Regions from separate parts of the Homo sapiens genome. Here region 2 is linked to region 1. The links come from fine-mapping of genetic effects on gene expression. Tissue or cell type: whole blood. Region 1 holds a variant in brackets; the other region holds the start of a gene. All regions are shown on one strand. Distances are from middle to middle.

Region 1 (4,261 bases):
TGGGAAGAAATCATGCACTGATTTCATAAATCAAAGTCAAACCAGACTTCTGGGTACTTATTTGAGATTATTTAGGCCTAATTTTAATAGTCTTTTTATGTCTTTGCAAGTGTGAAGGGTCATATTCTGAAAGTTTCTGTAACGTTATATATTTTTTAAACTCTTTATCTAGACTGTTGGCATTGATCTTGAGACACTTCACAAATCTTGCTTTGATTTCAAAGTAATTTTATTAACTTTTCTACATTTTGAAATCAGTGTGCCCCTTAGAACTTTCTTTCCCCTGAAACTGCCTGAAGGAGTACTCTATTCCTACCATCAGTTTTGGTGACTTACTAGATTCAGATAGCAAAGCCAAAAAACTCACAAAAAAACATACCAGCATAGCCAAATAGTTTGTATGTGTCTGGATATTATGTCTGTCTTCCATAGGAATCTTCTTAAAAGTCTTCAGCTTCACTGGACTAGTACTTTTTACTACATTGACAAAAGGTACCATCCAATCTACACATTCTGAAATACTGTCCCACTCCAAACCTAGATAGATAGAAAAAAGTTAGAAAAGCATGAAGGTTGTACATCAGAAACTATCTTACATATGTCTGATGTACTTGTTGCTGTTTTTGAGATATTTTAAAAGAAACCAAATCATAACCAAGAAGTTTAGCATGTCAAAACAGATTATCACTCTCAAACTATTTACATGACTATGTTGAAGGGAAAAAGGACTTCAGAACTTCTTAACCAGTACCTTCTACATATGAAATTGAAATGGTCAAATCCCAAAGAACTCTTAAAGCAGAACTATAATGTTGATTCATTTCAACTGTATTTAAATTCCATTTGGTCTTTTTGTTGATACACATTCAGGATTGGAAAGTACTTCTAACAGAAAGATAATTACTGAACAGCTAATTTTTTTTTTGCCAAAGTTTTAAATGCATGTTTAGCAGAATGTTAAAGTTCAGAGACTGTAGTCCCATTAGAAGTTGTGAAAAGGTAAGAAGACAACAAATAGAGAGTCTTACCTGAGGCTTTCTTAACCACTTCAATGGAGGTAAAATGGCACAAGGCAGCAGCAGTCAGTATTCTGTACTGGAACTCTAATGAATCAATGGCTAGAATACACAGATCTAAAAGCTAACAGGAAAAACAAAAGTACAAGCAATTTAGGAGAAAGATGAGTACTAAATGTCTCTTGCTAAAACCTTAGGGATCTAGAGATAAATAAGCCACCACCCGGCCAGGCGCGGTGGCTCACGCCTGTAATCCCAGCACTTTGGGAGGCCGAGGCGGGTGGATCACAAGGTCACGAGATCGAGACCATCCTGGCTAACACGGTGAAACCCCGCCTCTACTAAAAAATACAAAAAATTAGCTGGGCTTGGTGGCACGCGCCTGTAGTCCCAGCTACTCGGGAGGCTGAGGCAGGAGAATGGCGTGAACCCGGGATGCAGAGCTTGCAGTGAGCAGAGATCGCGCCACTGCACTCCAGCCTGGGCGAAAGAGCGAGACTCCGTCTCAAAAAAAAAAAAAACAAGCCACCAACCTGAAGGAAGTAGACAAGGAAGGACTGTTGCAATACAGTGTGACATGTACTAGCAGGAAGGGCACCTAATCCAGATTGGAAAAGATAGTGATGGCCTCAAATTGCCATAAATGGGTCTTAAAAGATAAGGGAGCCAGGAAGAGTAGGAGGCAGAGAATGTTCTAGGTATAGG[G/A]ACATTACTTGGAACTCAGTTCACAGTTCAGAACTCCTAAGGTGAAAAATAAATAAGGAGTACCTTCATTTCTTATCAAGAAAGATGAGGGGTGGTGGCTAGAAAGAGGCATGGTCTAGATTGGATCACAAAGGGTCTTTAAGAAGTCAGAATTTTATAGGCTGATTCTTGAAGCTACTGGAAGATTTTTAAATCAAAGTTCCATTTTAAGAAAGATACCTTAGAATGCAGTGAAGCAGACAGACTAGAAGAAAACATGTTTATTAAGCAGTGAGATTAGTTAAAAGGCTGTATAATCTAGGCAATAAGAGCTGAACTAGTAGCAGTGGAATGGTATAGTGTAAAAGGGGTAGATTTCACAGATTTGAGAAGATACTTGTGCAGTGGAATTAAACTTCAATTCTGTTTGTCCTCATTGGTCCAGAAGGTAGGAGAAATGGGAGAAGAGCTGGGAATTGGAAGTGAAATATTACTGTTATATACCTCTAGAAAGTCCACATTGTTTATCGGCTTATCAAAGATTTACCATCACTATCAGAAGGGTATAGCTGCCTAGGACAATTTGGGATGCTAGGAATTCTGGATGAAAAAATTAAGCTTTTAATAAAAAGTTTTATAAAATAAACCAATTTCAGTATACTTAGTGGTTATCCAATTTGAGTATTCATAATGTGCTAGATTTAAGCACCACTGCCCACAAATTTTAACCTAGGTGACTTAATAATTATCCCCAAATGTCTTCCATATGTTAGATTTTCACATCCCACATAGAATAAGAGGGTAGATTTTCTTCACTTTTGTTATATGGCAGATACAGCAGCCTTAAGATTACTTACGAGAAGTAAGCAAGAAAGAATGGGATCTCCTCTTTTTTTTTTTTTTTAATTTTTTGAGATGGAGTCTTGCTCTGTTGCTCAGGCTGGAGTGCAGTAGTGCGATCTCGGCTCACTGCAACCTCCACCTCCCAGGTTCCAGCGATTCTCCTGCCTCAGCCTCCCAAGTAACATGTTGGCTAGGCTGCCTCAGCCGCCCAAACTCCTGACCTCAAGTGATCTGCCTGCCTGCCTCAGCCGCCCAAAGTGCTGAGATTAGAGACCTGAGCCACAGTGCCCGGCCAGATCCTCCTCCTCCTCTACTTACTTACTTTGTTAAATATGCTAGCCTGGAAAAGTTTACTTTGAATTTATGTTCTAAAAAATTTTTTTAACAAAGTAATTTTAATTCTGATATTTAACTTGATAGGCACTCTGTGTATCCAAATGTAAAGACATCATACAGAATAATTCTATGCCATTATAAAGCTTAAACACAACTGGCGAAAAAAATGCTTTTCCCCATTTTATATCAAAAAGAGATACTTTAGTTTGGACTCCTAAAGAATGAAAGTACTCAGAAAAGTGTAAGGACTTTGTTTTTCTAGAAATATTAAGCAACATAAACACTGGGGACAGAACTTTATGCGTCAAAAGTTTTGTTCTAGAATTAAGGAGTGAAGTCAATATGTCATTTTGTGGTATAGCCTATTTAAGACTATATATACACTAAAACCTGTAATTAATAACATTACCATTGAATCAATAAAAATGTCAGTACCTGAGCTATTTGAATGAATGTTTCCTGAGAATACTGAGGTAGAAGAACTTTAGGAGCATCTTTAAGAGCATCAACTTGGAGAAAGAGATTTAGCCAGGAGATGATTGTTACAGGACAAAGTTCCCATTTTAAAGCCTATTAAACAAAATTTAAAAATGCCTGTTAATGAATGTAGACACATACACCACATTATACAGCAGAGCTTAGAGGTTAAGTACATTCCCCATCCAACCATAACCATTGTCAATATTTTGATGCATTAACCTCTTAGAACTGGATCCTAATACCTCAGTTTTGACTTTTTACATTGTAGTATTTGAGATTCAATTATAACTACTTATGTTACTTAGTAACATGGTTTCTTTTTTGCAACTAGGAAAACATAATTATTATTACCTTTAATATAATGAGTTCCATCCTTAAGATATCCTCTTCACTGCAAGCACCATCAGTGACGTAAGCAAACTCTTGGAGTTTAGGAGCATAGATTTCCTTTAAATTGTAATATTTTTATTGAGTACAATTGAGATAGAAATTAATTACAAATGTTCCTCAGTCTACAATGGGGTTACATCCCAATAAACCAAAATATCATTTAAGTAGAAAGTGCATTTTCATTTTCTTGGAGAAATAAGCAAAGACAAAAAGTACATTTTCTTTCTTTTTTTTTTTTTTTTTTTTTGAGGCAGAGTCTCAGGCTGGAGTGCAGTGGTGCAATCTTGGCTCACTGCAACTTCCACCTTCCAGGCTCAAGTGATTCTTGGGTCTCAGCCTCCCCAGTAGCTGGGGTTACAGGTGTGTGCCACTGTGCCCGGCTATTTTTTGCATTTTCAGGAGAGAGAGGGTTTCACCATGTAGGCCAGATTGGTCTCAAACTCCTGACTGCAAATGATTTGCCTGCCTTGGCCTCCCAAAGTGCTGGGATTAACCACTGCACCTGGCCAGAA
Region 2 (4,130 bases), 61 kb before region 1:
ATTTGTAATATCTTCTTTGGAGAATGATCAATTCAAATCCTTTTTTTTTTTTTTTTTTTTTTGTTTTGAGATGGAGTCTCGCTCTGTCGGAGTCTCGCTCTGTTGCCTAGGCTGGAGTGCAGTGGCACAATCTCAGCTTACTGCAACCTCTGCCTCGTGGGTTCAAGCAATTCTCCTGCCTCAGCCTCTCAAGTAGCTGGGATTACAGGTGCCCGCCACCATGCCAGGCTAATTTTTGTATTTTTAGTAGAGATGAGGTTTCACCATGTTGGCCAGGCTGGTCTTGAACTCCTGACCTCAGGTGATCCACCCACCTCGGCCTCCCAAAGTGCTGGGATTACAGGCGTGAGCCACCGTGCCTGGCCAATTCAAATCCTTTACTCACTGTGTTGTTGCTGGGTTGTAAGAGTTCTTTACATATTCTAGATGTAAGTCCCTTATCAGACACATGATTTGCAAATATTTTCTTCTAGTCTTTGGGTTGTCATTCCACTTTCCTGATGGTATCTTTCCAAGTGTATTATTTTTTAAATCAAAATTTTAAATATTTCTTTTGCCTCTGTTGTTTCTGAGAGCCGAAGACATAGCAAGTTGAAGAAGCCTTGGCTTTTTGACATTCTGGGACACCTTTCAAGAACACTGAACCCACACCAGGATTGTCACACACTGACAGGGAAAGATGTGTCACTCCAGACCCAGGCAAGCAAACTTGGCCACAGCTGGGATATGTGTCTTGCATCAAAGCAGAAGCAACTGGTAGTTTTGAGGGTCTTCTGACAGACACCCTCCAAACATACTGCTCAGAAGTGAGGTAGGAGGTGAGATGCGACTCTGGAGTCAGGGTTTGGACACCGGACCAAATTCAGGGATGGGGCTGAAGCAGCTTTCCATGAGACATGCTCAACAGTGTGCCATGTCGGTTTACCATTGCCATGGCAACACCTGGGCATTGCCACCCCATTCTATGGTAATGACCCGATGACCCAGAAGTTACTACCTTTTTCCTAGAAATTTCTGCATAAACTTCCCCTTAATCTGCATGCAATTAAAAGTGGGTGTAAATATGCCTGCAGAACCTCCCTGAGCTGGTATTCTCAGCGCACTGCCTGTGGGTTAGCCCTGCTCTGCAGGGGCAGTCACAGAGCTGTAACACTGCCACTTCAGTAAAGCTGTTCTCTTCTACCACTGGTTCACACTTGAATTCTTTCCTGGACAAAGCAAAGAACTCTCTGGGGTGAAGTTCCAATTTGGGGTCACCTGCCCTGCATTAGAGGGACAAGAGTCCCTGGCTGGAAGCTTGAGTTCATTAGACTCCTCCAATGTTGATGAAGTCTTAAGTTATGACTCCCTCTAAGAGATGGTCTCTAAGTTTAATAAACTTCAAGATCTCTGTCAACCTTCAAGTATTCAATTACCCACTCTGAAAAGGGGAGTTCAGTGCTGTAACACTTTTATGGCAAGACATTTTTGAGTCTAAATAAAACACCTTGGGACTTGAAATATATAATGTTGTTATTGTATTAGATGGTAGTGGAATAATGAACTCTTCCTTAATTAAAACTTATTTTTACATATGTAATACAAATGTCAAAATGTCAAGTTAATCTGTACTGATTTCCTTTTTTTTCTTTCTTTTTTTTTTTCTCGTTGTGAGACAGGGTCTCACTCTGTTGCCCAGGCTGGAGTGTAGCGGCACAATCACAGCTCACTGCAACCTCAATCTCTTAGGCTTAGGTGATCCTCCCGCCTCAGCTTCCTGAGTAGCTGGGACCACAGGTGTGTGTCACCATACCCGGCTACTTAAAAAAAATTTTTTTTTGAGACAGAGTTTCGCTCTGTTGCCCAGGCTGGAGTGCAATGGAGCGATCTCGGTTCACTGCAACCTCCGCCTCGCGGGTTCAAGCGATTCTCCTGCCACAGCCTCCTGAGCAGCTGGGATTACAGGCGTCCGCCACCAAGCCCGGCTAATTTTTGTATTTTTAGTAGAGACGGGGTTTCATCATATTGGTCAGGCTGGCCTTGTATTCACGATCTATGAATGCATCTTTTTTCAGTTTTAATCGTTAATGAAAAATACAAGAACATCACAGAACGGAGGTAAATGTATAGGGTTAACAGCGCCTCTAGCGGGGATATCGAAAGGATCAACTAGGCTCTAAGTATCGGGAGCTAGCAGCAAGGGCTGCTCACCGTATGCTGCCATCCGTCCAGGAAGCGAGTGGGAAGCTGGTGTTCTCGGCAGGACGGCGGGAGCATCTGAGGAGAGGACCCAGGTGCGAGGAAATCTCAGAAATGGGAACGGGGAAATTGAAAGCACAGGAGATAAACTTTGCTTGGGTCACAACTAGAACCCTTCGCTTCGCCTTTACGAAAATATTGAGGCCCGTTGCAACCCTAGATGAGGTTGTCTCATTTTCTCGCTGGAGAACTGTCAGGGAACACGGAAAACCCACCCGCGACCCGGCTTCATGCGGCGCCGTCTCCTATGGCAACCGGGAGGAGGCGTGGTTCGAAGGTTAGTCACGCCCCTTTCCTTCCAACCCGAACAACGATTGGTCCGAAGGCGCGGCGGTGGCGCGGGGAGGCGGATCCAGGACCGCAGCTCCGGCTGGCCCGCGCCGCCATTTTGGATTGTGTGAGTTTCCGGGACGTTCGGAGGGTGGCCTCTCTCCCACCGGGTTCCGCATACCCCAGGCACCGGCCCGCATCCAAGTGTCAGGTTGGAGCCGGGAAGCGGCCCTGGTGGTAGCGGCGGCGGGGGCAGGATGAGCGCGGAGGCGGCGGACCGGGAGGCGGCCACCTCCAGCCGGCCCTGCACCCCGCCGCAGACCTGCTGGTTTGAGTTTCTGCTGGAGGAGTCACTGTTGGAGAAACATCTGCGCAAGCCCTGCCCGGGTGAGCGCGGCGCCTGCACCTGGGGAGCGGGACCCGGCCACCGGCGCTGTCCGCCCAGCTTCCCTCCGCTCCCCGCCTTCTCGGTCACCGAAGCTGCGGCCTGGGAGGCGCGCACAGGAGCCCAGCTCCGGCCGGGCTCCTCGCTTCCCTTAAACATGCCCGGGTGGAGGGTCAAAGAAAAGCTCGAAACAAAGGCTCTCCTACCCCCGGAGGGGAGGGCTTGGTGCTGTCATCCTAAACCCTTTGGTCCTTTTTACGATTTACCTTTTTACTGTTGGGGTTTTAGAGGCTGCGAGGCGGGTCTTGTGGTTGCTTGGGTCGGGGAGGCTGACCAGACGCCTCCTTCAACCCCAAGCTGAATAAATTCAGGGAGCTGGGGAGAAACCAGCTGTTGGGTGTTGATCGTGACGCTAGTTATTATCTTAGGTTTTATTTAAACATTTTTTTCTTCAGTGAGGGAATTTTATTGACTCTTATTCCAAAGTTGGGCTGTAAGTTAAAAGAAAATCTTTGAAAGTAGGAACTGCTGCACATTTGCAAGATGGCTTTGTATAGTGATGATAATGATTAATAGCCCAGTTAAATGGGTGTGATTGATGGGGGAGGAGGAAAACTCCAGGCATTCTCAAAAAAGGTATTGGCACAAAAAGGTAAGTTCCTCGGATAGCATTTCTCTAAATTCAAATCTAGATATGGCTTGTTCAGTCTCAGACTGGCCTTCACTGATAGAGACCACTGTGTAAGAAGTTAGTGTACTTAGGCAGTTTTGGCACCTGTATAATGCCCTTAATTCATTCCTTTTGAAAGATAATTTGTTGAGTGCTTTCCGGGTGCCATGCACTGTGCTTAATTGCTCACATCCGTTACCTCCTTTAATTTAATCTTCAAAATGATCCTCTATTTTGCATTGGAAGAAGCAGGTACGGAGAGGTCACTTGATGGAGGTCCCCCTAATTAAGTGTCAAAATAATAGTTCTAATATTTATATCTCATTCTTCTAATTGGCAGTGGTTATTTGCAGAACCAGAAATCTATGACTGTTATGTTCTTCCCCGTAAGGTGCTTTTTTTTGCTTTCTTCCACTCTAATCTGTTACCCTTCCTCCTTACCACTCTTCCGCATCTCCTTTAACCCCCAGGCACACTTCTTACATACGTATTCCTTAGTCATTTTAACAGCGCAGCTGTTTGGATTCCTTTTGTGGCAAAAAAAAAACCCAAACTCCCCCCCCCCCC

The links. PIP is the estimated chance that this variant, and not a neighbour inherited with it, causes the effect.
Region 2: it holds the start of INTS8, and the variant in region 1 is fine-mapped to the expression of INTS8 in whole blood (TOPMed, PIP 0.97).

What each region holds. Positions count from the first base shown.
Region 1 is chr8:94,881,753-94,886,013 of GRCh38, forward strand. CCNE2 (cyclin E2) reads right to left here. Exons shown (of 12, transcript NM_057749.3): 8 at 3,711-3,806; 9 at 3,315-3,449; 10 at 1,029-1,140; 11 at 380-537. Among named protein-coding and RNA genes, the nearest start is that of CCNE2, 11 kb to the right of the region's middle. The variant G/A (reference allele first, on the strand shown) is at 1,722.
Region 2 is chr8:94,820,667-94,824,796 of GRCh38, forward strand. INTS8 (integrator complex subunit 8) reads left to right here and starts at 2,621. Exons shown (of 27, transcript NM_017864.4): 1 at 2,621-2,895. The coding sequence starts at 2,766. RefSeq lists a silencer at 2,658-3,047 and an enhancer at 3,208-3,267.